Homo sapiens: one gene and its partners. The protein of the gene in region 3 purifies or fractionates together with the protein of the main gene of each other region. This does not show direct contact. Each region holds a gene or a part of one and is shown on either strand. Other genes may lie near its edges.

Region 1 (7,362 bases), on a different chromosome or scaffold from region 3:
AAAGATTAGGAAATCACTTCAATTTGCAAACAGTGCTGGAAAAAGTAAGAACATTTTATAAAATCAGAAACACAGGACCCTTTTACTTTAATGAAACACATTCTAAAGGAATTTTGATATTTTTCCTGCCAAACTATCTCAGCAAGTTAAGTAAGCAAGTAATATCACATTAAATCAACCTGAAGACTGAGATTTAAGAGGGAAAAACATGATTGCTGGGATGGTAGAGTGAACTAAAATACTCTGCCTAACCATTGCCTATCACTCATCTGTCCCCCAGCCTCCCCCTTGCCCCGGCCCCATGTTGAGCTATATCCTAAGAAATATCGTTGTCTAAAAACAAAACGCTAAAACCTGAACTGCCCTTTAACAAAGATGAATAGAAGGAATTTTGAGACAAAACTCCCAAATACTATTCTCATCTATGCTAGTGCTTCTATGAGTTCAGACAAAAATCTCTCCTTGCAATTTACTTTCCCAACTGGCAAATGAAGATTATTTTCACTCATCAGGATGTCCAAAGTCTTGATTAATAAAGTTTGCCAAGAGCTTTTAAATATATAGATAAAAGGAGTTATAACAAGGAATTTATTTTTTTAAAATGTATTTCCTTTAGCGCCCTCACAGAAGTGAAGGTTGTGGTGTGTTAGCTGGGGTTATTTTTGCACTCTTTTCTCTCTCTCTCTTGTTTTGTAAGCAAATTTTACTGCTTCTGCAAGCATTTTTCAAAGAAAATCAACCTTCTGCTTTAGAGAACAGAGATGTTAACCTATCCTTTGGAGGGATTAGTGTTTAACCTTATCTTGAGGGCAGGCATCAAGATCTTTCTAAGGCTGTGATCGGAATAGAATAGTTCCTATCAAGTTAAGAAGATCAATAGAGAGAAATCAATTTAGAGGAAAAAAGGAAAAGCAGAGATTCCTTGGGGAAAACCTGGAACAGTTGCTCACTTCAGAAAATGTTATTCATTCCCAACAATTTTAAAAATGATTCCAAATTATATTTAAGGCACAACACTCAATCAGAATTAAAGTATAGCGAGTTTTACATTTTTTCTCTTTTAGATTTGAGTTTACATCAGAATTAAGCCTCATACATTAACATTGCTTTTGTCATTTCCATGTATTTTTTTCTCTATATAAGCTTTCTTATTGGCTGGAGGGCAGTTGGATATGTTTGTGAGCTGACTAGTTTTGTATTCTATATTTTTTCTAATTTTAATCAGTGACATCTTGGAAGATGTGGCTGTTAGAAATAGGAATATTGACTTACAGTGTGTTACTGGATGTCGGGCAACTTTCCAGACCCCCATGGCTTTGCTCACATTATTTCTTCTATCTATCAGTCCAGATAGATGTCTTCCTCTTCCTCCATTCCTGCAAAGCTAAATCCTATCTATTTTTCAAAGCCCAGTTCACATGCTCCCTTCCCTGCACTCTCATAACACCTCCTGTTTCTAATATATAACGTTAGTGAGATTTTTTAAATGTTTAGGTAATCGTGTATCTTTCTTTCCTACTACATTGAGATCCTCAAGTACAAAAAAAACTCTCTCATGTCATGACCTTAGACACCAGAAAATGTTAAATATAATAAAATGCCAGTTCAAAAATAACCATTGAAAAGGATGTGATAAGCAACCTAGTAATTCAGTCAGTGGGGCTGCTAGAAACCGTTGTCTTCATAGCTGAATTCAACTGACTCAATTCGGACTCAATTGTATGTAAACTGTTTATTTTTCTTTCTTCTTTTTTGGAGACAGTTTCGCTCTTGTAGCCCAGGCTGGAGTGCAGTGGCACGATCTCGGCTCACTGCAACATCCGCCTCCCAGGTTCAAGCGATCCTCTTGCCTCAGTCTCCCGACTAGCTGGGATTACAGGCGCCCGCCACCACGCCCAGCTAATTTTTGTATTTTTAGTAAAGACAGGGTTTCGCCATGATGGCCAGGCTGGTCTCGATCTCCTGACCTCAGGTGATCCACCCTCCTCGGCCTCCCAAAGTGTTGGTATTACAGGTGTGTCAGACACTGCGCCCAGCCTACTGTAAGTAAACTCTTTTGAGGCCAGGAACTCTGTCTTATTTCTTGTGCATCACCCCCTCCCCACCACCCCCCCGCACCCGGCAAAAAAAAAAAAAAATTAATAACCTCAGTATCATCTAATTCAATGTTCTGCACATATTCTCAATACAAAGCCATACTATTGTAGATAAAGAGTCTGTGATTAAAATAAAGATCAGATCCTGGACAAACGCTGAATTGTGAAACGATAAGTGTTTGTGCTTAAGATAATCTCAACGTCTACAACGAAGAAAAGTGTCAAAGATAAGATGCCACAGGGTCGGACAATGGACAGTAACTTTACTGGAAAGGGGGCACAATGAACAAAACTAAGTGGAAACAAGAGTTCTCTCAGTTTACCTTACGCTCCCAGAGCAAGACAAGAAGCCAAATATCTATTTTTCAATTATTATTTCATCAATTATGGTCATTTTAGTAACCTTAGCTTCCAAAGTATAAAGAGGTGTCACTAAGCAAAGACCCCAGTCCATGTGACTTTCAATGCCAAACACAAACTTTCTTGTACCCTCAATTAATTGGGTAACGTAGGCCATGGATGATCAGGACATTCTCTCCAAGAGGGTACAAGAAAGTGACACAGGTCAGGATTTAATTTCCCCTCCTCTATCCCCTGTTAGGGGAGGTAAAACATAAATGTAGTTAATACCTGAATTGTGAATAAGTGAAACTTTCGAGACTGCCCCAGACTAACATGACCTTCTCACCACACTCGTAGTACAAACTGACAGCACAGAAGACCCCCTCCAGGAGAAAGGACGACGGGAAGCCAATGTAGGACTTACCTGGTTTCTCTATCCTATGGTTAAACCTCTGGAGCTACGCAGACCGTGGCAGCGATAAATCCACGTACGCAGGCTCCAACAAAGCTCACACAATCGGAGAAGTCACAGTAGCTGCGGCTGCGGCGGCGGCAGCAACAACTCCTCCCTCTGCTTCTCTTTTCCCACCCCCCGCCGCGGCGGCCAGCCGCCTTTACCCCTCCCTCCCTCGACTACCCCCACTTCCGGGTGATGCCCCTGCCGGAAGCAGGGCCGCCACGGGAAAGAGAGCGACTGGTCACGTGAAAAGGAACGCGTGGTCTAGAGCCAGCTTCTCCTGCCCCCTGCTGCCCCCGGGCCGACACGCAGCCTCGAGTGGGTCTTTGTTAGGGTACGAGTCCACTATCCCACCCCGCCCCCACGACAAAAGCGAAACCAGAAAACCCATACTAAAACAGTGCCTTTGTCATCTTTAGTTTCCTAACCTCAGGCCAAGATGTAACATAAAAGATCCTTATAAGTCATCTTCCACATAGTTCATCTTTGCCTAGCATGAAATTCACGTGCATCTGTTAGACTGTGTTAACTGCCAAGATGTAACATAAAAGCTCCTTATAAGTCATCTTCCACATAGTTCATCTTCGCCCAGCATGAAATTCACGTGCATCAGTTAGACTGTGTTAACTGCCAAGATGTAACATAAAAGCTCCTTATAAGTCATCTTCCACATAGTTCATCTTCGCCCAGCATGAAATTCACGTGCATCTGTTAGACTGTGTTAACTTGCTTCCCGTAGACTGTGTAGCCTAATTCCAGATGTAAGTGCCAGAACTATGAATTTATCCTCTTCCCTCCATTGAAAAATTACATCAAGAGGAAAATGTTTATAAATTCATAATTTTTATATGTGTGTTGAGGGGGTAGGGACGTCACTTCACCACCTTCATAGCGCCATTCCAAGCTCTGAACCACTCCCCCATTTATTCATTCACTCGTCCATCATTTTACACACCTAGAAGATTCCGGTGATGCAAAAGTGTTACAGTCTCTGTTACCATGAGTTCATTTAGAAATGAGATGCATAAAATGTAAACAATGCAATAAATGGTACAGAAAACATTTGAAAAAAGGGTCATTTTATTCTTGCTTTCCAACTTAACATTTTGAAAAGCAGCAAAATTCTAGGATTTTTAAAACTATGAACATTAACAGTAAAAAGAGGGAGAGGCTCCATCTCACTTATTTCAAAGCAAGATGTGGCCTTTTCATATTTCCTTTCATGAAGTATCTGTCATAAGATGTAGAACAAAACTAATCACAGGACTATTTGTATTTTCATCTGGAACCATTTGAACCCAGTTCCCACAGAAGAGTATGAAGCCTAATAATGTTGCAGAAATCAAAATAGTACACAAAATACAAATATCAAGTAAATATTTGTAAAAGACTTAGAACAGCGTCCGGCACAAAGTAAGCATATTTAAGTGTTGAAATAATTTCCATCCTAGCTGTTGTCAAGTCCCTATTAAGCCTTGACAGGCAACATTTAAAATTACCCATAGATCTACATTTTAGGTCTGTGATTAAGTATTTCAGAATTATTATCCCCCTCCACACTCATCCACATAAATATAAAATTAGCCTCAGGACTCATCTTCCCAGGCATTATTTTGTAGTTGTCAATGTGTGCAGCCTTAATTATTAAGATACAAACTCAGCCCCAAATTTAAAATCTTAAAAATCACATCATATGAAATGAAGATAGCTTTTAAGTGGGTTTCCAAATATTAGCAAGTTGGTTTGTAACTATATTAACATTGTGTTAAGCATCCAAAAGAAATTCACTAAAAGGCAAAACCAAAAATATATCTTTTTCAGAAGCAGAACATTGAATCTACTAGCTATCTAGTATTTTTATGTAAATACTAAAGTTTATCACTATGAGCTGCAAGATCCTCTGCCAACCATGTACATTCTTAGGCACTCTAATATTTAACATAAAAACCTAGAGAGCTATATATATATTTTGTTGTTGTTTGGTTTTGAGAGTCTTGCTGTCACCCAGGCTGGAGTGCAGAAGTGTGATCATAGGTCCTTGTAACCTTAAACTCCGGGGCTAAAGCGATCCTTGCACCTCAGCCTCCCAAGTAGTTGGAACTATGGGCACACACCACCACACCTGGCTAGTTTTTATTTTTTTGTGTGTGGAGATGGGAGTCTCCCTTTGTTGCCCAGGCTGGTCTCGAACTCTTGGCCTCAAATGATCCTCCCACCTCAGCTGCCCAAAGTGCTGGGATTACAGATATGAGCCACCAGGCCCAGCCTAAAACTCTTGTCTTTAAATGCATCATCCCTAATCCTCCTTACCAATGCACAAGCATAGAAGGGAATGTCTTCAAGAAATAATCAGGTTTGCTGGGGGTTGAGCAGACAGCAGGTGTCCCTAAAATGCTTATGAAGTGTATTAATAACCCCAGTGACATTAAGCCAGGAGGATGGGAACTCAACATCTGTACCTCTACAACTACCACAGTACCCGTGTCTAGGTAAGTTAAAATGAATCTAAAATAACAGAACACAGGTGCTACAATAATTCTGTCCTAGAGTGAAATTAAGAATGAGATTTATGAGGTTGGGCACCGTGGCTCACGACTGTAATCCCAGCACTTTGGGAGGCCGAGGCAGGTGGATCGCCTGAGGTCAGGAGTTCGAGACCAGCCTGGCCAACATGACAAAACCCTGTCTCTACTAAAAATATAAAAATTAACCAGGTGTGATGGTGGGCGCCTGTAATTCCAGCTACTTGGGAGGCCGAGGCAGAATCCCTTGAACCCAGGAGGCGGAGGTTGCAGTGAGCCAAAATCACACCACTGAACTCCAGCCTGGATGACAGAGCAAAACTCGGTCTCAAAAAAAAAAAAAGAATGGGATTTATGACATTAACCCTAATGTTAAAATATTTCACAGCCATCCAAATAGAGTTTAAAGGATTGGCAATGATTTTAAGGTAAGTAACTTACCTAAATTCTTCAGACTTACAGATACTTGAGGACAGAGGACTAATTTGACGACTTTCCAACTCTAGGTATGACTGAAACTCAAAGCGATGTTACGGGTAAGTTGAGAAAATTTGTGTGAAAGGATATTTTCATGGCTCTGAGAGCACTAGGAAAGCTCCAAGGTCAGTATATACTGTGATGGCACACACACACAAAAAACTGCTTCATTTCTAGTAGTGGTCATAAGTTTTAGAATTACTCATCAGGATAAGATTAACTACAAAATTAAGTTCAAAAAGTGTGTTCAAAGTTACTACCACCACCAGGTTTTATCACACAAAGCAACATATAATTTTGATCACAAATGGACACAGAAAACATTCTAAATTGTCATACAGATGACAACTATCACTTAGCTTAGTACAAACCATACTGAAACTGCTTCCACGTCGTGAGAAATAAGTGTTAATTCAGTGACAAAAAGGTATATAATTGAAGGTTGACACTTCCTTAAATACATGTTTATTTTACTTCAATATCGCTCAGGGTTGTATGTATTTGAATACTTCAGTACTATTTTGAACATTCTAAATATGAAATACCATAAAGCGTTCAAATTTATCAAACAGTGGTACAATATGGTTACTAAACTTGCAACTTAATTTACAATGACGTTCAATTTTTCCTCTTCAAATAAAATCACTGACTTTGGTCCATTTGATGAGAAACTAGGACATATGCCATGACAGCATACTTCTAGCACTCTATGTAATAAGCAAAAGATAATTTAGCTAATATAGACAGGTTACCTGACTGAAATTCTACTTTCTGCTTAATTGATCACGATCAAGAAAACTACAAAAAAAAAACAAAAAACAAAACAAAACAACTACCACAGACTACAGCTCTCAGCCAAGAAAGTAATGATATATAAGCCGGGCGCGGTGTCTCATGCCTGTAAGCCTAGCACTTTGGGAGGCTGAGGTGGGTGGATCGCCTGAGGTCAGGAGTTCAAGACCAGGTTGGCCAACATGGTGAAACCCCATCTCTACTAAAAATACAAAAATTAGCCAGGCATGGTGGCAGGCGCCTGTAATTCCAGTTACTAGGGAGGCTGAGACAGGAGAATCACTTGAATCCGGGAGGCAAAGGTTGCAGTGTGTCAAGATCACACCACTGCACTCCAGCCTGGGCAACAGAGTGAGACTTCATCTCAAAAAAGAAAAACAAAGAAATATGTGGTACAGATATTGCTCTTCTTCAGGTAACATACATAAAATCCAATGTTATATACTAAAATAATAATCCACAAATCCAAACATTGTTATAATTATACAACAGGTGACTGATAGTAGATAACTAGGAACAGACTGCATTTGACAAGATTTTCTTTAATAACATCATAAACATCCCTAATATGATGAAAGACCAAGAGCTATAATCAAGATGAATATGCCAAAACAGCCAAGGAGCTAGTAGCTAGTCTTCAGACAGGCTACGAGTTTGTTTTATAGGACCACTCCGC
Region 2 (7,647 bases), on a different chromosome or scaffold from region 3:
ATGGGAGGGGGTAGATGGGGAACTGGGCTGCCAGGGTTGGGGGTTGATGAGGCTGGGAGCCTGGATTCCTGCTTCTAGAGGAAGGGGTTGGGGGATGAAATTCTTAGATCCCAAGTGCGAAGAGGATGCTGGTGGCCCAGACTCCTCGGTTCTGGTGGCGGAGGGTGTTAGAGGTCCCAGTTCCTGGGTTGTGGGGGCTGGGGACGGGTGGGCCAACGTCCTGACCTCCTGTGCCTCCTGATGCCTCCGGGTTGAACTCTCACATTGGTCCATGCGCTCCTGGTGCAAGAACCGGCAGCCTTCAGGCACCAGCAGGGCCTCACTCACAAATTCACCAGCTGGGGAAGCACGGGACACCAGGGTGAGATCCTCCTATAGCCACCAACCCCACCCTCCTCAGAATCCAGATATTTTATCCTCAGAGGCTTCTCTGCCCCACTTAGGACACAAGCACCCAGCCCCTTAATGTAGGCCTGAGAGAGGGGCTCAGAACCTTGCCCCTCAGAAACTCCCACCTCAGTTCCCCTCTCCCCGCCTGGGACTCACGCAGGCAGCGGAAGGGCACAACCTGGTGGTGGGGGTGGGCGCAGCTGCCGCTCCGGGAACCCCCGCACCAGCGCTCCATGGGGATGGCCTGCGTAGCCTGCTCCACACGTGCAATCTGCAGCTCCGGGTACATCTGGGGGGATCAGATGGGGGCAATCAGCCCACTGCCCCGCCCCTGCCAGCCACCCCTCTCCAGTAGTCAGGTCCCTTTTCTCTTTCTTTCTCCCTCTTTCTTTCTTTCTTTGAGACGGAGATTTGCTCTTGTCGCCCAGGCTGGAGTGGAATGGTACAATCTCGGCTCACTGCAACCTCCTCCTCCCAGGTTCAAGCGATTCTCCTGTCTCAGCCTCCTGAGTAGCTGGGATTACAGGCACGCACCACCATGCCAGGCTAATTTTTGTATTTTTAGTAGAGACGGAGTTTCGCCGTGTTGGCCAGGCTGGTCTCGAACTTCTGACCTCAGGTGATCCGCCTGCCTCGGCCTCCCCAAGTGCTGCGATTACAGGCGTGAGCCACCGCGCCCGGCCAGGTCCGTTTTCAAGGCTCTAGTATTCATGAGGACATCGCTTCCCTAGGCCCTGCTTCTCCCTAGCACCAGCCTTAGATATCCAAGCTCCTTGTGCTCATTGGCCACGCCCACTAGCAGTTTTCCCTTAAAAGTCCCGTCATCTTTAAGCCCTATCTCTTTTCCTGTGCTGTTTCTTTCTGAAGGTCCCTCTAAGCCCACCTCTCTGGTCACCCCTCCCCGCAGTCAGATTCGTCTCCCCAAAGGTCTCACCCTCCTTTAGGCCCCGCCTTTTCCTCTATTCCGCCTCTCCAAAACTCTCCCTTCCCGTTATAAATTTGTCTTTTCATGGCCACGCCCCCCCAGCTCTCCGCGCTCTCATTGGGCTCCACCCCTTTCCCCATCTTGCTGGTCCTTAAGGTCTCTTTCTGTCTTAGCCCCGCCTATCCTTTCGCCACTCCCCCCTACACCTCTACTCTTTACAAAGACCACCAGATTCCTAAATTCCACTTCCTCTCTGGCTATCTCGCGGCTCTCCCCTTTTCCTGACTTAGTATCTCAAAACAGGTCCCCTGCCCCTAGCATAGTTGCGCCTCTTTATTGGCCACGCCCCCCAGCCTCCACGCCTTAGATCGCGCAGCACCCTGGACCACGCCTTTTTCAAGTCTAGCTTTCTATGGGCGGCCCCGCCTCTCCCGTTCGGCCCCGCCCACCTGTCTGCAGTACTCCAGCACGCGCTGCGGGTCCCGGAGACAGCGTCGAGAGCGCTGTGGGTCTGGTTCCCAGCGGCCGGTGCGCAGGTCCCGGTGAAGGGTTAGGCGCCCGCATAGTCCAGCCACCTGGGCCGACCCCGGGGCCTGGATGGAAGTGGAAAGGACAGTGAGGGCTCGGGGGGCGTTGGCATGAGGGTCCCCTGGTTCTTTGCTCCCTAGGACCGAGACCCCCAGCACCAGCCCCCTCCCCCAAGCACCGCACACCGCCTCCATGGAGGCACCGTTCCCTGGGAAACAGCTCCCGTAGGGCGGGGGCGCCCCAGCGCTCCCGTTGCTATGGCGACCTGGGTCCCCCGGGATTCTTTCTGCCTTGTTGCCGCGGAGACAGACTCCGCCCCCACCCCAGCGCAGCCGCTCTGGAGCCCGAAGGGGTTAAACCTGAATCGCGGAGGAGGAGGCCAGAACCCAGGAGTTCTGGCCCCTCCTCCCTCCATCCCTTGCTCAGGCTCCCGTTGCAGGATGCAAAGCTGACAAGGCCTGGCTTCAGGGGCCTACAGTCCTGGACACCAGGTCCTTGAGGACTGGAGAGCTACATCTGGTTGGGGTGGGTGGTGACTGAAGGACTGGACTCCTGGGTCCTGGGAGGCTGCAAGGGCCTCCATATGGGTCCAGAGAATACAAGGGGTCTGGATTATTGGATCTAAATGCCTCGCTGCTTGGTGGGTCCTATGTCCAGGCGGGAGGGGGTTGGGGCCGAGTCACCTGGGTCTGGAGAGGGGGCTGGACTTCTGGGACCAGGGGCTCTGAATAGACCAGTTCCTATGCTCGAGATGGGAGGGGGCTGGGACGTCGCATGATGGGGGAGCTGGGGCCTGGAACCCTGGGTTCATAAATGTGATTGGGGGCGCCTGGGGGCTGACCACCTGGCTGGAAAGACCGCGCTTTCTGCCCTGGACATGTCCGCGCCGGCGTCCAGAGACCCGGTCCCGCCCCTTCCCCCATCCCCCAGGACCCGGCCCGGCCTCACCTCGGCCGCGCCGGGGCTCCCACCGGCCAGGCTCCCGATGGCGGGCTGCGCGCGCAGAAGCAGCAGCAATAGTGGCAGCAGCAGCGGCAGCGGCGGCTGGCCCGGGCGGCGACTTAGACCGCGAGCAGCGGGGCTGGCGGGCCCCATGTCCCGGCCCTTGCGCCCTCACGTCCCCTGCACTCCCGCCCGGCCCGGCCCCAGCGGTGACAGGAGCTCCCAGCGCCACCGCCGCCACCTCCTCCTCCCGCCGCCCCCGGGCTGCGCCGGCGCCGCCAGCCCCGCCCCGCGCCGGCCCCGCCTTCCTGGTCAGGACAATAGCGTGGCGGCTTCGCGCAGAGTGGAGCAGCTCGGGAACCCCGGGCGGGAGCCTGCGCCAGGCCCCCGCCCCTCGAGATTCCAGGCGTCCCGCCCCATGAAGGGCCCAGCCAGGAGTCCGGCTATGGGCTCCGCCCGTTGTGGATTTTGAGTCCTCCCGCAGGACTCTCACCCTCTTTAGACCCAGACACTCACAGTTTTGTCCTTTTCCAAGGATGCAAGCATCAGAGACCCCCATCCCCTAGTACATTCCTCTGTTGAGGGCTCAGGAATACAGGCCTCCAAAATGTCCCCAGTCAAGAAGGCAGCAGTTGAGACCTAGTCCCTTCCTCTTTCAGATCCAGAAGTCTGGGCACCTTCTCTCTCAGGACCAGAGACCAAGCCCCCAGCCCATTCTCCTTCAGACCCAGGAGTTCACTCTTCTTGCTCTGCTTCCCAAGGGTCCCAGGGGCCTGGACCTTTAACTCCTAGCTCAAGGATCCATGAACCAAAGCCCCCAGGACCTTTCTTTAAGGATCATCCAAGCAGGCACCAGCACCATGCCCACTGTGGATGCAGCACCTCAGGATTAGGGTCTGGATCTCCACGCTTGCTGTAAGGACCAGGGGATTGCCATTTTCCTACCCATAGTCTCCCCTTCCCTGCTCCACTTCAGGGCTCACTTGTTTGTCTCCTCTAATGAGAGTTAGAATTCAGTCTTCCCCAGGACCCCTGGGGCAGCCCTGTCACTTGTGTGCAACTGTGTGGACATCTATGCGTGTGTCTGTGCATACATGCCTATGTGTGTGTCTTTTCTGTTTGCAACTCATGTGTGTGTGTGCGTGTGTGTGTGTGTGTGTGTGTGTGTGAAGATGTATATTAAAAGAGCCCATGGCTGGGCACAGTGGCTCATGCCTGTAATCCCAGCACATTGGGAGGCCTAGGTGGGCGGATCACTTGAGGTCAGGAGTTTGAGACCAGCCTGGCCAACATGGTGAAACCCTGTCTACAAACAAATACAAAAATTAGCTGGGTGTGGTGGCATGCACCTGTAGTCCCAGCTACTTGGGAGGCTGAGGTGGAAGGATGGCTTGAGCCCAGGATGCAGAGGTAGCAGTGGGCTGAGATCATGCCACTGCACTCCAATGTGGGCCATAGAGCCAGATCTTGTCTCAAGAAAAAAAAAAAAAGAGCCTAGAGTGCTTTGCAGGTAGCAAGAGGCTGAGAGGTGGCTCACAGTTTTACTCCTACAGCCACCTCATAGGCTAGGGTAGAGGAGGGACCTTGGGACAGGTCTAAGGGACCCCTTCCTTGGTGGAGAGTGATAATGCCAGTAGACTCCCTAAGACACACTTGCCTCTTTGACTTTTTTTTATTATTAAACATAAATATTTTTATCCCAATATTTTGCCCCAACAGTGGTAATTCTCACTGTATCCCCACTCCTTGGGTCCAAGTCTTTCTGAGTCTTTAAGGAAAGTAAAATCAAGATGGTGGCCATCTTGGGTTCCTAGGGAGTATATGGCCATCTTGGCTGCATTTCCATTGGCCGAGCAAAGTTCCCCTCAGGGAGAGCCAGGGTGGGGCCTGGTATGCTCTTCATCTTCATCTATCCTATGCTACCTTTCCTCTCAATGCAGATGGTCATCTTGAAATATCTTCTTTCAGTGGCTAGAAACAACTTCCATCCCGGCCCCAAACTCCCAACACCCACTGCCCTGTCCCCATCTCTCCTCAAAGGGCCTACCTGCCATCTTGAATCTCTTTTACACCGGGGAATAGGTGGGCATATTGGGTGGCCATGTTGCTCCCACTTGGGGCATCTCCTTTGGCTGAGCTGACTGTATACAAATGCTCCTGACAAATGTAATGATCTTTCCCTCCCCTTGTGTTCAGTTTTGGAGGAGTAAGGTCGCCAACTTGTCCTGGCTCCTCAGAAATCAGAACAATCCATTATGGCAAGTTGGAGATCCCAGGACTCTTCCATTGGAAAGATGTCACACGTGAGTCTGGAGACGCGGGTGGCTAGGTGTGGGGAAGGCAGCATATGGGAAGGGGGGAGTCCCGGGGGCCAGATCTGGGGGCCCAAAGGATGTGGGTTTGATGTAGCTGGTGAAAGCTCGAGGGTGGGGTGTGGTGAGATAGCCTGCCCTGGCTCTGTAAAGTCTGCAGGGGGGGACCATGCCCAGGTGTGGGTTGAAGTCATAGAAGGTAGGGGTCCCTGGGGGCCCAAGGGGGGAGGGTGGTGGCAGGAAGAGACCTCCTCCAGGGGCTTCGCCAAGGCTCAGGCTCACACTGACTCCTCGGACCTTGTAGTAACCGTTGGTTGGGTCCTGAGGGGACAAATGGGACTCAGTAAAGTCTGTGAGCGTGCAGGGGGGATGAGGGTCACTGATGGAGAGACACACTGAAATAGACCAGACCTTGAGAGAGACAAAAAGAGACAGGAGTGGGCAGAGACACAGAGACACACATGGACTGGGAGAGAGAGAAAGTGAGACAGAGGAACAGTGATAAGAGGCAAATGGATAGGACATAGGCAGAGAAAGGTAGAGACGGAGGGATATAGGCCTGCTGAGGGGTGTCGGTGTGGAAGGTGCAGAGGGAACAGGAGAGAGACACTCACCTGCCCAACAGCCTCTAGGCTTTGATTCAGTGTCACACCCTGTGTTGCTGCTACAAGGCATGTCACTAGGATAGAACTGGACCCTGTCCTCACAGAATCCCACACCAAAGGAAAAATGACAGATCATGAGACAGTACCCAGAGGGGTCAGGGCTGTGCCTGGGAAAGGCATAGGCAATGACAGGGGCTGTGATGGTAGAGCCCTCAGCATAGTGGGTGGGATAAGGAAGCCCAGATCAGAGTGGTCATGGCTGTGATGGGTGGAACACAGGCAAAATGATCGAGCTGTCATGACGGAAGCATGGGCTTCCTAGAACAAGAAATGTCTGAGCTGAGACTGGAGGACTAAAGGAAGGAATTAGGTAGACATGGGAAGGAAGGTAGGAGTGTTTCAGGCCAAGAGAATGGCATGTCGGCTGGGCACAGTGGCTCACGCCTGTAATCCCAGCACTTTGGGAGGCTGGGGCGAGCGGATCACTTGAGGTCAGGAGTTCCAGATCAGCCTGGCCAACATGGTGAAACTCCATCTCTACTAAAAATACAAGAAAAATTAGCCAGCTATTAGGGAGCCTGAGGCAGGAGAATGGCTTGAACCCAGGAGGCAGAGGTTGCAGTGAGCTGAGATTGCACCACTGCACTCCAGCCTGGGCAACAGAATGAGACTCCGTCTCAAAAAAAAAAAAAAAAAAAAGAAGAGAGAGAATGGCATGTGCTAGGTACGCAGGAGAGAGAGAGAGAGAGAAGTGCTCTGGCCTGGGGATGGCCTGGAGTCAATGTGGCTGTCCTGAGGTAGGACCCCAGAGGAAGAACCAGTCTGGGGAGATGTGGGGCCAGTGTAGGACCTGGTGGCTGAAAGGGGGCTTGACCGTGATGAGGAGAGCACAGGCAGGGTGAGCCCTGGTCTGGGGCTCCAGATGGAGGCTAGGGCTGGGACAGATGTGTGGGAAGAGTCTGCAGACAGGCAAACTGAGGCTGGGAGCTGAGTGAGATGGCCCAGGGGGCAGGAGGAGTGGGGTGGGGAGCTGAGTCCCAACTCTGAGGACAACAGAAGGAAAAAGGAGGGGACAGGCGTGGGAGAGAGACGGAAACACAATGAAGGGAGCCCCGCCTCTCCCAACAGTGAAGGGAGCCCCACCCCTCTCAACACTCACCTTGGTCTCCAGAGTCCCTTCCTCCTCCAGAACCAGATCACTGTGGTCAGTGTGCACAATGGGGCCCTGGGGTAGGGAACTTAGTGAGAGGGAATAGTCAGAGGATCCCCCCGCCCCAATGCCAGACCCCAAGGACCTTCAGCCAGCCAGTGGAGGCCAGGCAGGAGGGAGTAAGAGCACCCAAGAGCTGGGGACTGCACTCAGGACAATAAAAGGGCTGTAAGAAGCCAGCACAGTGGCTCATGCATGTAATCCCAGCACTTTGGGAGGCCGCAGCAGGAGTATCACTTGAGGCCAGAAGTTTGAGACCAGCCTGGCTAACATGCCGAAACTCTGTCTCTACTAAAAATGCAAAAAATAGGCAGGCATGGTGGCAGGCACCTGTAATTTCAGCTACTCAGGAGGCTAAGGAACGAGAATCACTTGAACTGGGAGGTGGAGGGTGCAGTGAGTCTGGATTGCACCACTGCATTCCAGCTTGGACGACAGAGCAAGACTCTATCTCAAAAACAACAACAACAACAACAACAACAACAAAAACGGGCTGTGGGGACATACTGGGCCTAGGGAATAATTGGGTCAGGGGCATGGACTTGGGTGACATTTGGGTGTGGGGTCACTGTTAAGACTAGAGCCCTTGGCCGGGCGCGGTGGCTCACGCCTGTAATCCCAGCACTTTGGGAGGCCGAGACGAGCGGATCACGAGGTCAGGAGATCCAGACCATCCTGGCTAACACGGTATACACCTCGTCTCTACTAAAAATACAAAAAAATTAGCTGGACATG
Region 3 (7,021 bases):
CCCACACACTCCCCACACCCAAGCAGGATAAGTGCTCGTCTGGGAAGCACTGAGTATTTCTCCCAGTAATACGTATCACATAGTACCGTCATTCATTCCTTAGCTGTCAGCCTTTCTCTATAGACCCAGAGCTCCGAGCAGGTAGAGGCAGTGGCCATCCTGGTCAGTGTCCACGTGTGGCATCTGGAACAGTGCCCAGCACTTGGGAAGCCAAACTGAGTGAACAGAGCTGGATAAGCCAGGAGGCCACTGCTCTCATTCAGGGGAGAGATGACTGTGTCATGGGAAAGGAATTCGAAAGATATAACAACTGAGCTTCTTAATTTCTCTCTAGTCACCATTCAAAACACTGAATGAAATGCTTTCCAAGTCAATTATGTTATGAAAATTCAACAGTAAATCTGATCTGTTGAGTGATGTCCACAAAAGCTCACATCCCTGTGGAAAGTCAGAAAGGATCATGGTTTGAGCCCTTTTACAAGCAAAAATTAGGCATAATTCTAGGCCACATAGAAACTGCCACCTCATTGGGATAACAAGTTTACCTTCTTTTGTTTTCAGAATAATTCTGCAAAGCCTCAAAGCAGAGGATGGAAACATTTCAAATCCTGCTGACATAGTCTGCATCTTTGCTTTGATTTTTAAATATGATTCCAAGCAGGCAGATAATGTTGTGACCCAATTACGGGGTATTTTGGAAGTAGTAGGCACCCAACTTGGGAGTGGAGCTGGTGGGTGTAAAGGGAAGAGTTACTAAGCAAGCACTACCACCTGCCTCTCAATCCTTCACGGGATTTTACAGAGAAGGGAGCTATGGCAATCAGGAAGTAATGCAACATCTCCCCTGACCCGCTTCCCATTTTCTCACCATTCCCAAAATAGACAGAGCTAAGGAAAATCATAAATATAATTCTCAGCCCTCTAGGGAAAAGCTCATTAAGGGCATAAATTTGGGTCCCTGGGAAAAAAGGGATGAAAGGCAAAGCTATTAAAAATCTCAAGAGATGAGACAATGGGAAATAAAGCCAACGGACAAAAAGGAACTAGAAAAACACAAAAACTATGGCCATTTCCTACACCAAAGCATACTTACAGGTAGGGCTACAAGCTCAACTGCCCTGGATACTCTAAACTCAAGCTCTTTAGAGTCAAAAGGTAAAGTTTTTGTTTAAAACTAAAAATAAAAATACTCGTTAAGTAAGGTCTTATCTCACATCAAGTATTGTTCTCTGCCCTTATACATTCACTGATGAAATCTTCACAACAATCATATTATATAAGCACAATTAGTATTCCTATTTGCAGATGAGCAAACTGAGCACTGTGTAATTCTGTTGTCAAAGTACAATTCTGTTGCCCTTTGTCATATGGCTATTAAATTGCAGAGCAGCACTGGGACTTGACCACTAAACCCCTGCTGCCTCCTTCTAGGGCTATCCTTGCACATGTTGTAGGATATTTAGTAGCATTCTTAGCCTCTTCCTACTAGATGCCAGTAGTTATCCCTCCACAGTCACCATGACCAAAATGTCACTGCCAAATGTTCCCCAGTGAGCAAAACTGTCCTGCTTAAGAACTACTGCCACAGAGATTTGAAAGGCCAAATCCCGAGTTCCCTTACAAAAGGAGTAGCAAATCCTGGGTGGTAGGCAGGAATAAAATTGAGTTAAGGAAAGATGACAAAGGAAGCAGCTGAAGGGTTTGCTGTAGTGGGAATTTTACATGAGGAGTCACTAGCCACAGCTCTTGCCACTCTCGCAGGATTAGGACAGCCTTCCTTCCCCTCCACTCCCATCACACACATGCCTCTACTGCAGCACCCTATAACCAATGTTCTGGTACATTCCTCTCTGTCCTCCTGAACTTAGCACAGTGCCAGGCACAAACTATGTACTCAATAAGCATTTGCTGAACAAAGGAAGGAACAAATGAAGCCGAGGTTTCTGGATGTCACCAAATGAATGTCTCTCTTCACCAGTGTCCTGGAAAAGGTATACACAGACCTTGGTTCTTGGAGAGGACAAGAGGTTCTGATCAGATAATCTGAAGAATCTGAGTCTGAATCAATGCTTCCCAAGGTGTCTCTACACCCAAATCATGCCTCTGCTGTGTTCAAAATTTGCAATGTGGTATATGATCATTTCTTGAAATGTCAAGGAAATTTTAACGGTATTAGTTCCCCCAGGAATGAAACAACTCAAGAAACCTAACTCATGCTAAGGAAATTCTGATTTATTCACTTCCACTGACAAACAATACCACCTAGCAAATTGTGATACTCAATGTGGCAGGTCGACTCTTGCCCAGGACAGAAGTCTACCTGAGAAACAGAAGGAAGATCAGAAGGTAAGAACAGAGCCAGCACCAAAGAGCAAGCAGGATGCTGCCAGGGAGAGGACCCATACCTGTAATCCCAGCACTTTGAGAGGCTGAGGCGGGCAGATCACTTGAGGTCAGGAGTTCGAGACCTGCTTGGCCAAAGTGGTGAAACCCCAGCCTCTACTAAAAATACAAAAATTAGCCGGATACAGTGGCGGGCACCTGTAGTTCCAACTACTTGGGTAGCTGAGGCAGGAAAACTGCTTGAACCTGGAAGGTGGAGGTTGCAGTGAGCCGAGATTAAGCCACTGCATTCCAGCCTGGGCGACCAAGTGAGACTCCGTCTCAAAAAAAAAAAAAAAAAAAAAAAAAAAGGAAATAATTTGTTGTTATTGTTTTGACACTCCTTCTTCACCCCACAATAGCAACCAAAACTAAAGGTGAATAACAGCAATTCCATGAGCAAATCATTCTGAAGCTTCCTCCAGCAATTCAAGGCTCACCCTGGAGGGAATGATACTGCAGAGGTCTGGGCCAAGCTGGCTATTACACAATTCTAGGTTCTATGGCTTTCACCCATCACCATTTCCTAGAATCACTAACTAAGAATTGCTAAAGAGTGTTGTTTTGCCAGAAAGAGGCCTGCATGCAAAGAATCAAATGTCAAGATACATCTTGAGGTTCACCTGCTGAAATTCACACTTCAACCACTTGCCCATTCTGTTCCCTTACACCCTCATCTTTCATCTTGGTGCTTTCCTTGTCATTCTCAAGCTATAATTCAAAAATAGTCACTGGCTCCTAGGGCACTTTCAAAATTAGCTCATTCACAGTTCCTAGGACCTTGGGTGACTCTATATTCCTGGAAAGCCCAGGGGCCCCATCAGCTGACCCACAAACTCCACATGTTGGCCTGGCCTCCATGACTCAACTCAATCCCAAGGGCAGGCCTCCCTGCATCTCAGGCCCAGATTCCCAGACTTACCAATTTCATGGACCATTCAGCGGCTAGATAAAAATATTCCTATCAAATCATAAAAGAATCTTACCCAAAAATGAGAAAGGCATAGTATCAGAGAAAAGGACATATCTTCTTATTTGAACAATTATGACATATTCACTACATCATTATCATCATTGTGATAAGAACAGTGAAAACCACTAACCAACAATAAATGACCTGTGGGGCTAACATTATGCTCTGCATATAGGAGATACTCATTTACTTTTATATTGTGTGGAAACTGAGCTCTGACTTACACGACAGGGACACATCCCATACCTCCAGTAATGCCAGGCCTTCCTTCTTCAACAATGGCATTTCCCTTTACCCTCTGGAATTCCGCAAAGTCTCTCCAATCTATCTCACCCTCTTAAACACACGTTTTTCCTTCTACCTCGATTCCAATATTCTGCATTCTTTTTTTTGAGACAGAGTCTCGCCCTTTCACCCAGGCTGGAGTGCAGTGGCGCGGTCTCAGCTCACAGCAACCTCCACCTCCTGGGTTCAAGCGATTCTCCTGCCTCAGCCTCCTGAGTAGCTGAAATTACAGGCGTGTGCCACCATGCCCGGCTAATTTTTGTATTTTTAGCAGAGACGGGGTTTCACCATGTTGGCCAGGCTGGTCTCAAACTCCCGACCTCAAGTGAGCCACCTGCCTTGGCCTCCGAAAGTGCTAGGATTACAGGCATGAGCCACTGCTCCCGGTTTCTGCATTCTTTTTCATCAACTTAAAAAAAACGACACTCTTCCTCCCACTCTAAGCATTCCTGAAGCATACTTGCCAATGAGTTACACTTCGGGAACTTCAGTTATTACCTAGCAAACAAAGTTTGCAAGATTTCCACAAGAGGAAAAGAGAGGGTAGAACTGGTAAACTTTGTTTATAACCACTGTCAAGTCATTAACCAACAACAAAGAAAAGCTTTAATCCATCCTTTTCTATACCATTCATTTCTTTCCATGTTCTCTTCTCGTATTTGTCCATGTGAATCTGTACATTTTATATATCAATAAATTATATATTGGGATTTTTCTCTGATTATAAAATAAATATACGTCCATTACAGAAAACAAGATAAGATTCAAACACCATGGAAATAAATTATATAGAAAGGGAATATCTCCTGTAACTCTACACACAAAGAGCTCTAATACCTTTAAACTGATCAAGCTTCTTACTTCCTGCCCAGTTGTGTGACTTGACCTTCCACCCTCTATGCCCTTCCTCTCTCCCAGCTCTCATCTAATGTCTGGAGTTAATGACCCACTCCTAACAGGGGTCCAGGAACCCTGGAGCCTGGTTATTAGAGGAACTAGAGTCACTCTCCCTTTATTAAAAATTATTTCAATGGGATAACAACTCCTCACTGACTCACTTAAAGGTTAATGAGGCTGAGTTTTGTGAGCCTCTTGAAAGCAAAATGCACTAAAAACACCAAATGGGATTGGTTTCCTTTGCTCTCTGCCCCATCGCAGCTTGCCAAGAAAAAAGAAAAAAAAGCTCATGATCCTGCTAATGACACTGAGTAGACACATTTCACCAGCCACCACTCCTGCTACTGCAGCAGCCAATCACAGGCATCTGTCCAACACAGTGACAGGGCTAACGTCAAATGAGAGTGAAAGTCGTATTCCAGAGACCAAGGGCTGCATTTCTCATCGAGGCGAGGAGACAAAGGCTGGGACACAGGAAAGGCTTGCCAAAATTTCACAAGGGTGGGCCTGGGAAGCAAAGCACAGGACCCCCTCCCCTGCAGCCTAGGTAGAGGTTTCTTTCTCAGACTATCTGTGTGCTCAAGAGCAGAAAGTCTCCCCGCAGAAAATGCTATGAAGTAGTTTCAAATGTCGAATACACTTTACCCAAATCTAATCATTACCTTATCTGCTAACTAGACTGGCAGGGCCATAAAGTTAATTTTATGACAACCATTTTATAACAAATGAAAACTATAAGGGAAGTAGGAATTGGGCAAAAAAAGAAGGGCATTGGACAAAGCAGTGACAAACCAGACAGGGAAACACAAAATCACCTCCAAATAATGCTCTAAACCAGTGGTCTCCAGACAGCGTTCATGGAAGACAATTTTTCCACGGATGGGGTTGGGGATTGGGATGAAACTGTTCCAACTCAGATCAACAAGCAGTAGATTCTCATAGGGAGTGCACAACCAAGATCCCACACATGTGCAGTTCACAACAGGGTTCACAGTCCTGTGAGAATCAAATGCCACCACTGATCTGACAGAGGTGGAGCTCAGGTGGTAAAGGTCACTTGCCCGCCGCTCACCTCCTGCTCTATGGCCCGGTTCCTAATAGGCCACTGACCAGTTCAGGTCCGAAGCAGGGGGCTGGGGACCCCTGCTCTTAAACGAAGACCTCTCTCCTCGAATGGCTGCATCACAGATCTCTAGACTGGGACAAGAAGGACCCGATAGACAACCAGAGGGTGACTGCAGCTCTCTCATTTTACAGATGGGAAAACAGGCCCAGAGACATAACTGACTTTTTCCAGGTAACACAGTGAATTGAAGTAAGGGACAAGCCAGCCCCAAAGGCAAGTCTTTGGGGTCCCTGGTTAGTAGTCTTTCCTCCAAATCCCCCCAGACCCTTTATTATGGAGAGTCTGTTACTCTGCCTCTGACAAACCATTTCGGCTGAGAGAAATGCCGTCAACACATATCAGCATGCAGAATATGCACTAATAACACATTAAAATCAAAATGGCTAATCTGGGTTTATCTTCTGACATCTAATTTCATTTGTTGGTAGTGCAACATTATTGAAAATAAATGAACACAAAACAGTTTTAAAATCTGGATAGAACCTTCTTGAAAACATTCAAATCATTCTGAAGATATGCAGTTCCAATCAAATTTAATTCTAAATAACAAATCAAAGATGCTTTAAAAGAGAATGCTTACTGAATAATAATGGAATCAATTAAAGATATTTTCATATAAGATAAAAGTTTAAAGCTCTATTGCTGTGAAATCACGAGCATCTACCTTTTCAGAGGGGTTTTCTTAGACAGCTGACATTTATGCATAGATGCTTACAGCATAAGATGATATATACAAAACCTTAATAGGATAATAGGACACATAAAAAGCACTGAACAGACCAGGCGTGATGGCTCACGCCTGTAATCCCAGCACTTTGGGAGACCGAGACTGGTGGACCTCCTGAGGTCAGGACTTGGAGACCAGCCTGGCCAACATGGTGAAACCCCATTTCTACTAAAATTACAAAAATTAGCCAGGCGTGGTGGCGGGCACCTGGAATCCCAGCTACTCAGGAGGCTGAGGCAGGAGAATTACTTGAACCTGGGAGGTGGAGGTTACAGTGAGCCAAGATCGCGCCACTACACTCCAGCCTGGGTGACAGACTGAAACTCTGTCTCAAAAATAATAATAATAATAATAATACTAGGCACTGAACAAATGCTGGTTTCCTAACCCCATGTAGGAAAATAAGTATTCCCCCCATAACCAGTAATAACTTATTACAATATTTTCCTAAAAGTCTGTCCCACCTGCTCCCCTCCCCCGCCCCCGGAAAACTTAAGGTGTTATATCACAAGGGTATTGTCCAGTTTTGTTTTGTTATTTATTTACTTATTTATTTATTTTATTTATGTATTTATTTTGAGACGGAGTCTCACCCTTTTGCCCAGGCTGGAGTGCAGTGGCGCGATCTTGG
Region 4 (7,644 bases), on a different chromosome or scaffold from region 3:
CGAAAGAGCATACATCCTTATGATCTGTAGTACTGTTTCACATGATCTTCCTAACCTTTCTATAAGTGGTATCATTCTGAACACAATCAGTGTGTAACTTACTTCTTGTTCAATTTTATTGTTTGTGAGAGTAATCCACGTTGACACCTATAGCTCTAGTACCTTTGTTTACTACTGCATAATATTCCACTATATGAATACACTACATATTTGGCCAAAGACACTGCTTGATGTTTCATATGCCATGTAGTGCCTACTATTTTCCATACCACTATGGAAAATGCGCCAGCCATTTTCCATAACATTCTCCAGAATCCTCACAGCCACCTAATGAGGAAGGTATGATTCCCACTAGACCAAAGAGGAAACTGGAGCAGGGAACTGGTGTAATTTGTCCAATATGTGTGAGCAGCAGACTCCTGCTTCAAGTTCAAGTCCATCGAAGTTTAAAGCCACACTTCTGACAATGCGCCTTGTAACCCTGCTTATGTAGATTCTTATTTATTATTTTTTTTTTAATTTTTTTTGAGATGGAGTCTCACTCTGTCACCCAGGCTGAGTGCAGTGGCGCGATCTCTGCTCACTGCAAGCTCTTCCTCCCGGGTTCACGCCATTCTCCTGCCTCAGCCTCCCGAATAACTGGGACTACAGGCACCCGCCACCATGCCTGGCTAATTTTTTGTATATTTAATAGACATGGGGTGTCACCGTGTTAGCCAGGATGGTCTCGAGCTCCTGACCTCGTGATCCACCCGTCTCGGCCTCCCAAAGTGCTGGGATTACAGGAGATTCAGATTATTTTAATGAAAAAAACTGATAGAGTTCTACAGTCATCTGGGAAAAATGTGAAACACGATGCTCTATTTTCTTTAACAAACATCCCACAGGAAATTCGTCCGACACAGGGACAGCCCGTATGTACACTGAGGAAGAGCCTCTGCCTTTGGCAAAGGTCTCCCACTAGGGTCATTACCAAGTTTATACAGGCACTCTCTAAGTAAGCCTGTGTAGGACTGCAACCCGAGTTGGTTTTCTTTGGGGAAACAGGCTGTCTGCACCCACTTACAGACAGGACAGGGGAGCCCAAGAGAACATGGGAATCAGATCCTGCTTGAACTGGCAAAAGCTGAGTCAGCAAAGCTCTAAGAACATCTCCAGGGAGCAGCTCCAGCTGTTAGCAGCTCTGGGGGTCTGAGGAACAGTCCTCAGCTCACAAGGCCAGGAGTTTGCCTAGTCTGCTCTCCGTGTGGCCAGCTTTGAGAGCACTTTCATACATCCCAGCCCAACCCTGTTGCTCTGGAGAAAGCCCAACCTGGAATACGGAAGAGGAGTGAGAGTGAGGGTGGAGACTCACAGAAACCAGGCAGGGAGCAAAGCCTGGAAAAAGGATACCCAGCTCCAGGCCTGGGCCCAGATCCCTCCAGATGCTCAAAGCAGGTGGGCCCCTAGGAGGTGACAGTCTAGTCCCCCAGAACTCCCAAGGACAGGGGAGGCCTTTCAGCACCAGGACTCCTGACTCTACTCTCCTGCTTCTACACTGTATCTCTCATTTTGTCTGTCCACTGGAGGATTAAGGGAGCCTCAAAGGAGCAAGGCATAACTGGCTGAAAAGACCCCCTCCCACCCATCCTGGACAAAGCAAGGAGGAAGAACACAGGATCTGCCACCTACTGGCTGTGTGACCTTAGCTGGAGCATCCCCGTCCACTCTGGAGGAAAATGTAGTGGACTGTCTCTAAGGGCCCTGCCATCTGACTCTTTCTGTCTACAGTGCTAAATGCACTCTGGCTCACGCCTGGCATCCCAGCACTTTGGGAAGCTGGATGGGGAGGATGGTTTCGGCCCAGGAGTTCGAGACTAGCCTGGGCAACATAGTGAGACCCCCGTTTCTTTAAAAAAAAAAAAAAATTTAATTAGCCAGGCGTGGTGGCCCGCACCTGTGGTCCCAGCTACTTGGGAGGCTGAGGTGGGAGGATCTCTTGAGCCCAGGCATGGAGGCTGCAGTGAGCCGAGATCGCACCCCTGCACTCCAGCCTGGACAACAGAACAAGATCCTGTCTCAAAAAGAATAAATAAACAAATAAATAAAAGCACTGACATTTACTGAGCAGTTTAAAGTATAATTCATTTAATCCCAACACCCCATGAGGTAGATACTACTGTTATCCCATTTTACAGAGGAGGCCGCTGCAGCCCAGAGCGGTTCACTGAGGTACCAAGGCCATAGGCAAAGTTCTAAAGGAGGCCCCAGGGGTAGAAGCCTACGCTCACGGATGCCTGGGAAGGCTGCACAGGACATCCACGGGATGGTGGGGGTCGGGAGACACCAGAGACTGGCCCGAGGTTAGGCGCAGAGGGAGATAATGGGTCAAGGTGTCTGAGAAAGGAGACGGGGCTTGGTAGCCCCAGCGAGACTGGCCTAAGCCCAGATAGTGGGGAGGAGATAGGAACGAGGGCGGGATGTGGAGAAGCAGGGAAAGGCAGGCCGACGTGGGCAGGGGCGAGGAGGCCTTGGAGGAAGGAGGGTGGATGGCGCAAGCCAGTGGCGGAGGCAGGGGACGCCGGCGGAAGCGCGCGGGCGGCTTTGGGGCGAGCGGTCCCACCTTGAGCACCGTGACGGCTCCCGCGCTGTGCACCTGGAAGTGCGCGGGCGGCTCCGTGCCCGGCTCCGCCGCCTCGTCGGGGCCCTGGTAGCTGAAGCAGGCGTCCGCGATGTCCAAGTGGCCGAGGGGCAGCGCGTCCTGCGGACTCTTGAAATAGTAAAGGTAGCAGCGGCGCGCGTCGAACACGAACCAGCGGCTGCGGTAGCCACGCAGGGGGCCCTTGCCCGACAGCTTCTGCAGATAGCCACACAGCCGCGCTGGCTCCCGCGCCGGACCCGCCCCGGGCTCCGCGGCCGCCCCCTGCGCCGCGCCCTCGCCGCCGCCGCCGCCCTCCTCCGCCCGGGCTCCGGCCCCCGGCATCGCTACCGCGCGCCAACCGTAGGCGCCCGCGCCCTGCGCCTCCGCGCCGCGGCCGCTGCGCCCCCTACCCCCTCCGCACCGCCCCTTCGCTCCGCACGGCCCGCGGGCGCGCAAAGCACCCTGGGACTTGTAGTCTCGCCCCCGCCCGCCCGCCGGCCGTTGCCCCCTCAGCCCCCGGAGGCAGGGTCCTGCGACCAGCACCCCGCGGGTCAGTTGCCTTCGTGCCACCTGGGCTCCAAGTCCTCGCCCTGCCGGATGAAGCAATGGTCTATTTCTTTATGGCAGTGTAGGTACATGGGAGTGTGCATCTCTCAAAACCCAGCGGAGTGTCCGCTTAAAACTGCATTTCACACTGTGTATCTTATTCTAAAAACTTGATATTTAAATCTCCCTCCTGCCAGAGTCTCAAGCTAATATTGTAAAAATGAGACAGCCTATTGCCTGGTGCTGAGTGGGTGCTCAGTAAATATTTGCAGAATTCATGAAAGCCAAAGCGTTTCCTGCCTCTCCAGACCTCAGTTCATTTATTGAATTCAACATATATTTATTGAGCGCCTTCTGAATGCCGGGTACGGTTCTGTATGCCAGGCCCTGGCGGATACAGCAGTGAACAAACCAATCATTCTCCTGCCCTCGTGGAGGTTATATTCTAGTAAGGCAGGGAGGTGACACACAAGAAAGCAGATAAAAGTAATGTGTGCTATGTTGTATAAATGCCGTGATGACATGTAAATGATTACCGCTTAAAATAGCACCTAGTATTTATCAGTGCTTTATAGACTAACTTATTTGAACACTCACAACCTGAGAAGGCAAATCTATTGCTTTGTAATAAAGCAAAGAGAAAGAATGAATAAGACCAAGTATTTGCTAGCACAACAGGGTGACTACAGTCAAAAATAATATAATTGTACGTTTAAAAATAACCAAAAGAGTATAATACAGACGCGGTGGTTCACGCCTGTAATCCCAGCAGTTTGGGAGGCCGAGGTGGGTGGATCACCTGAGGTCGGGAGTTCGAGACCAGCCTGACCAACATGAAGAAACCCTGTCTCTACTAAAAATACAAAATTAGCTGGGCGTGGTGGTGCATGCCTGTAATCCCAGCTACTCGGGAGGCTGAAGCAAGAGAATCTCTTGAACCCCGGAGGTGGAGGTTGCAGTGAGCCGAGGTTGCGCCATTGCACTCCAGCCTGGGCAACAAGAGCAAAACTCTGTCTAAAAAGAAAAAAAAAAGTATAATAGGATTGTTTGTAACACAAAGGATAAATGCTTGAGGTGATGGATACCTTACTTACCCTGATTTGATTATTATGCATTGCATGCCTGTATTAAAATATCTCATGTAACCCATAAATATATACACCTACTATGTTCCCACAAGAATAAAAAATAAGTAAAAAGCAAAGTGAGAGGATGAAGTGATGGGGGGCAGATAGCAGGCTGCTGCCCCAGGACAGGCAAGGAGGCTGGTCTGATCCTGTGACATGGAGCACAAACCCAGATGATGGGAGGGACAGGGGCAACCAGAAATGTGGGTGAAGCATTCCAGGGAGAGGGAATAGTGAGTACAAGAGCTCACTTTATTCAAAGGAAAAAGGAAGTGTATAGCTACATAGCTACATTTGTGAAAGCCCAAACCAAATATCTCACCCTCATAGATTTGCATGTTTTATACAGACACACTGAAAGACCCAGGTGGAAAACTGACCTTTCTGAGCTGGACAGGGACACAAATTAGACTGCCTGTTTGGAGCCACCCAGGTAGGAAGGGCAGGTTCTGGGTCCTCACCCAGCCTGCCGACTCTCTGCAGGCCCTAAAGTGGCACCACGCAAGCATTCCTTTCCTGGGGCCCATCAGAGGTGTGGCTGACCTCTCCACCTGTCTTTGAGCACAATCAGCACAGTGTTAAGGACTGGGCTCTGACTTCACACTGACCAGATGTGTCTCCTAGCTCTGCCACTTACCAGAGGCATGACCTTGGGCAAGTGATTTAACCTCTCTGGGCCTCAGTCTCTTCATTTATAAAACAGGGTTGATAAATACAAGTAGCTATCTCGTGCTGTTGTTATTGAAAGGGTTACGTGAGAAATGCATATGAAAGTGCTTAGCACGGTGCCTCACACATAGTAAGCACTCAGCACATATCAGCTGTTATTATTATCATCTTGCAGTTAACACCGATGTCTTCCTCATCAGTCAGCAGATTCGGAGAGGGGGAATCCAACAGTCAGACCGGGCCCAGACAAGGGAGGCCAGACACTGCGGTGCTGCGGGAGTGGAGTGGGCTGCTCTCGGGAGCAAGGGGTCCCAAGTTCAATTTGGGCCTCACCATGTATGTAAAAGGGGCTGTGACTAATTGGCTTGTGGGGTAGGCAGTCAGGGTGAGGTCTGACCTTGAAATACTGTGGGAAAGGGAAGAGCTGGGAGAACCCGGTCTGTATTGCCATGGTACAGGGAGGCAACAGGACAGGGGAGGGTGTAGCCCATCTCTCCTAGATCTATCAGTAAGTTATAAGGAAGTGGGGGTGGCCATGACCTGTGGTCCCAGTGGACAGGACCAAGCCCCATGAGGTGTCTCACGGGGGCCGATGTCTGCTAGGCCCGAGGAAGGCATCCTTCACAGGCACAAGCCACGAGCCCCCCTCCTGGACTAAGAGTCTGGGCTGGCTGGCCAGGGCTAGGCAGATGGGACGGGACAGGGGTGCTGTTTTAAGCGGTAATCATCTACATGTCATCACGGCATTTATACAACATAGCACACATTACTTTTATCTGCTTTCTTGTGTGTCACCTCCCTGCCTTACTAGAATATAATCTCCACGAGGGTAGGAGAATGATTGGTTTGTTCACTGCTGTATCCGCCAGGGCCTGGCATGCAGAACCGTACCTGCTGTCTGTGCCCCTCAGTGGGCAAGCTGGACTTCAGCCTGACTCCCCTACACCTGAGCCTCCAATCCTTCCCTGGTCACCCAGCACAGATGAGCTGGGGCCATTTTAAAATGCTTGCAGGGCTGAGTGTGGTGGCTCACGCCTGTAATCCCAGCACTTTGGGAGGCCAAGGAGGGCAGATCACAAGGTCAGGAGTTTGAGACCTGCCTGGGCAACATGGTGAAAACCAATCTCTACTAAAAATACAAAAATGAGCCAGGCACGGTGGCACGTGCCTGTAATCCCAGCTACTCAGGAGGCCGAGGCAGGAGAATCGCTTGAGTCTGGGAGGAGGAGGTTGCAGTGAACCAAGATCGTGCCACTGCACTCCAGCCTGGGTAACAGAGCAAGGCTCTGTCTCAAAATAATAATAATAATAAAAATAAATAAAATGCTTGTAAGCCACTGCCCTCTTCCTTCTGGAGGCCACACCTGACATCATATCAAACATATTAAAATGCTCTACATCCCGTAGTAAACATATACATAATTTTTGCTATGAAAATGTTTTCAGGAATATCCATAATTGTGCTCTTGATATTATCTAATTATGAGTTTTCATTTTCATTTTTAATTGGCTGATTTCTTGGCAATCATCGTGTCTGTGTGGGAATTTTGGCCAAGTGAGAGAAACCTAACCTAGAAATTGTTCTCAAATGTAATGACCTTTTTTTTTTTTTTTTTTTTGGAGATGGGTCTCATTGTGTCACCCAGGCTGGAGTGCGGTGACGCTACCTCAACTCACTGCAACCTCCCCCTCCTGGGCTCAGGCAATCCTCCCACCTCAGCCTCCTGAGTAGCTGGAACCACAGGTGTGCGCAGCACCACGCTCAGCTAATTTTTGTATTTTTTGTAGAGATAGGTCTCTGCTATGTTGCCCAGGCTGGTCTCAAACTCCTGGTCTCAAGTGATCCTCCCACCTTGGCCTCCCAGAGTGCTGGGATTAAGGCATGAGCCAAGGTGCCCAGCTCTGTTATGACATTTTTATGATGACTATAAAGGTGACATGTTACATTTGTAGACATTTAATTAGATGTTCATTAATTCTAATTTTGCTGTTTTTCTTGGGTTTTAGAGCCAATACATTTTTCTTAGGCCACAAACATTTCACAGGCCTCTCAAGCAGGCAGGCCCAGGCACTGAGCTTTTTAGTATATTAGGGGATAAACTGGCCTGGCCCCTGCCTCGGTCTGGCCGGGTCCAGAATATGGCCCTCTGAGGAGGCTGCACAGACACAGGCCTGAGTCCCCAGTGAGAGTGGTAAAGTATGGAGGCCTCAAAGCCAACAGCAATGTCTCAGGAGGGTCCCCTGGAGGGCCCTGAGTCTCTGTCTACCCGACCAGGCTTAGGAAGTGGCCCAAGCCTTCCAAGGATCCCTAGAGCCTCCAGAATCAACCCTAAAACCCTCTTGACTCTCTAGACCTCCCCCAGGCCCCTCTTCCCCACTGACTCTCTCAAGACCCTGCTGAAATGCTTTTTATTTCGTGAACAAACCCTTCTCCCCTCATTCCTAGGGCCATGAGCTGAGGAGAACTAGGCAATGGGGCTTTATCTCATCTCTCTTAGTACCTCCATCTTCAGTCTGGACAATGTTTATAGTTTATGTAAATAGATATAGCTTCAGTTCTTCCCAAGGGCCTCCTACATGGAAATGTTGGGGCTGTCTCTGGTGGCTCCTAATTCCCTGAAACCCTTCGTAAATGGTTTGTTGACATCTGCAGTTCCTGAGGTCTCTTAGATTAAACAGTGA

Evidence for each region.
Region 1: the proteins of APBB2 (region 3) and ATP7A purify together in Homo sapiens (affinity purification with mass spectrometry; 4 studies listed by BioGRID and IntAct, with this or other methods). This does not show direct contact.
Region 2: the proteins of APBB2 (region 3) and APLP1 purify together in Homo sapiens (affinity purification with mass spectrometry; 4 studies listed by BioGRID and IntAct, with this or other methods). This does not show direct contact.
Region 4: the proteins of APBB2 (region 3) and TBC1D2B purify together in Homo sapiens (affinity purification with mass spectrometry; 4 studies listed by BioGRID and IntAct, with this or other methods). This does not show direct contact.

Annotation. Positions count from the first base shown.
Region 1 is NC_000023.11:77,906,336-77,913,697, reverse strand, and holds the start of ATP7A (copper-transporting ATPase 1), read right to left. Parts: upstream 3,006-7,362; 5' UTR 2,863-3,005; intron 1-2,862. UniProt on the Homo sapiens protein: ATP-driven copper (Cu(+)) ion pump that plays an important role in intracellular copper ion homeostasis.
Region 2 is NC_000019.10:35,863,928-35,871,574, reverse strand, and holds the start of APLP1 (amyloid beta precursor like protein 1 isoform 1 precursor), read right to left. Parts: upstream 3,002-7,647; 5' UTR 2,939-3,001; coding exon 2,792-2,938; intron 2,484-2,791; exon of another isoform or gene 2,218-2,483; intron 1,909-2,217; coding exon 1,765-1,908; intron 680-1,764; coding exon 547-679; intron 339-546; coding exon 226-338; intron 1-225. Other genes in the region: KIRREL2 (kin of IRRE-like protein 2 isoform c precursor), read right to left, coding at 5,083-5,418, 6,862-6,927. UniProt on the Homo sapiens protein: May play a role in postsynaptic function. The C-terminal gamma-secretase processed fragment, ALID1, activates transcription activation through APBB1 (Fe65) binding. Couples to JIP signal transduction through C-terminal binding.
Region 3 is NC_000004.12:41,204,533-41,211,553, forward strand, and holds part of APBB2 (amyloid beta precursor protein binding family B member 2), read right to left. Parts: intron 1-7,021. UniProt on the Homo sapiens protein: Plays a role in the maintenance of lens transparency, and may also play a role in muscle cell strength. Involved in hippocampal neurite branching and neuromuscular junction formation, as a result plays a role in spatial memory functioning.
Region 4 is NC_000015.10:78,074,691-78,082,334, forward strand, and holds the start of TBC1D2B (TBC1 domain family member 2B), read right to left. Parts: upstream 3,022-7,644; 5' UTR 2,963-3,021; coding exon 2,603-2,962; intron 1-2,602. UniProt on the Homo sapiens protein: GTPase-activating protein that plays a role in the early steps of endocytosis.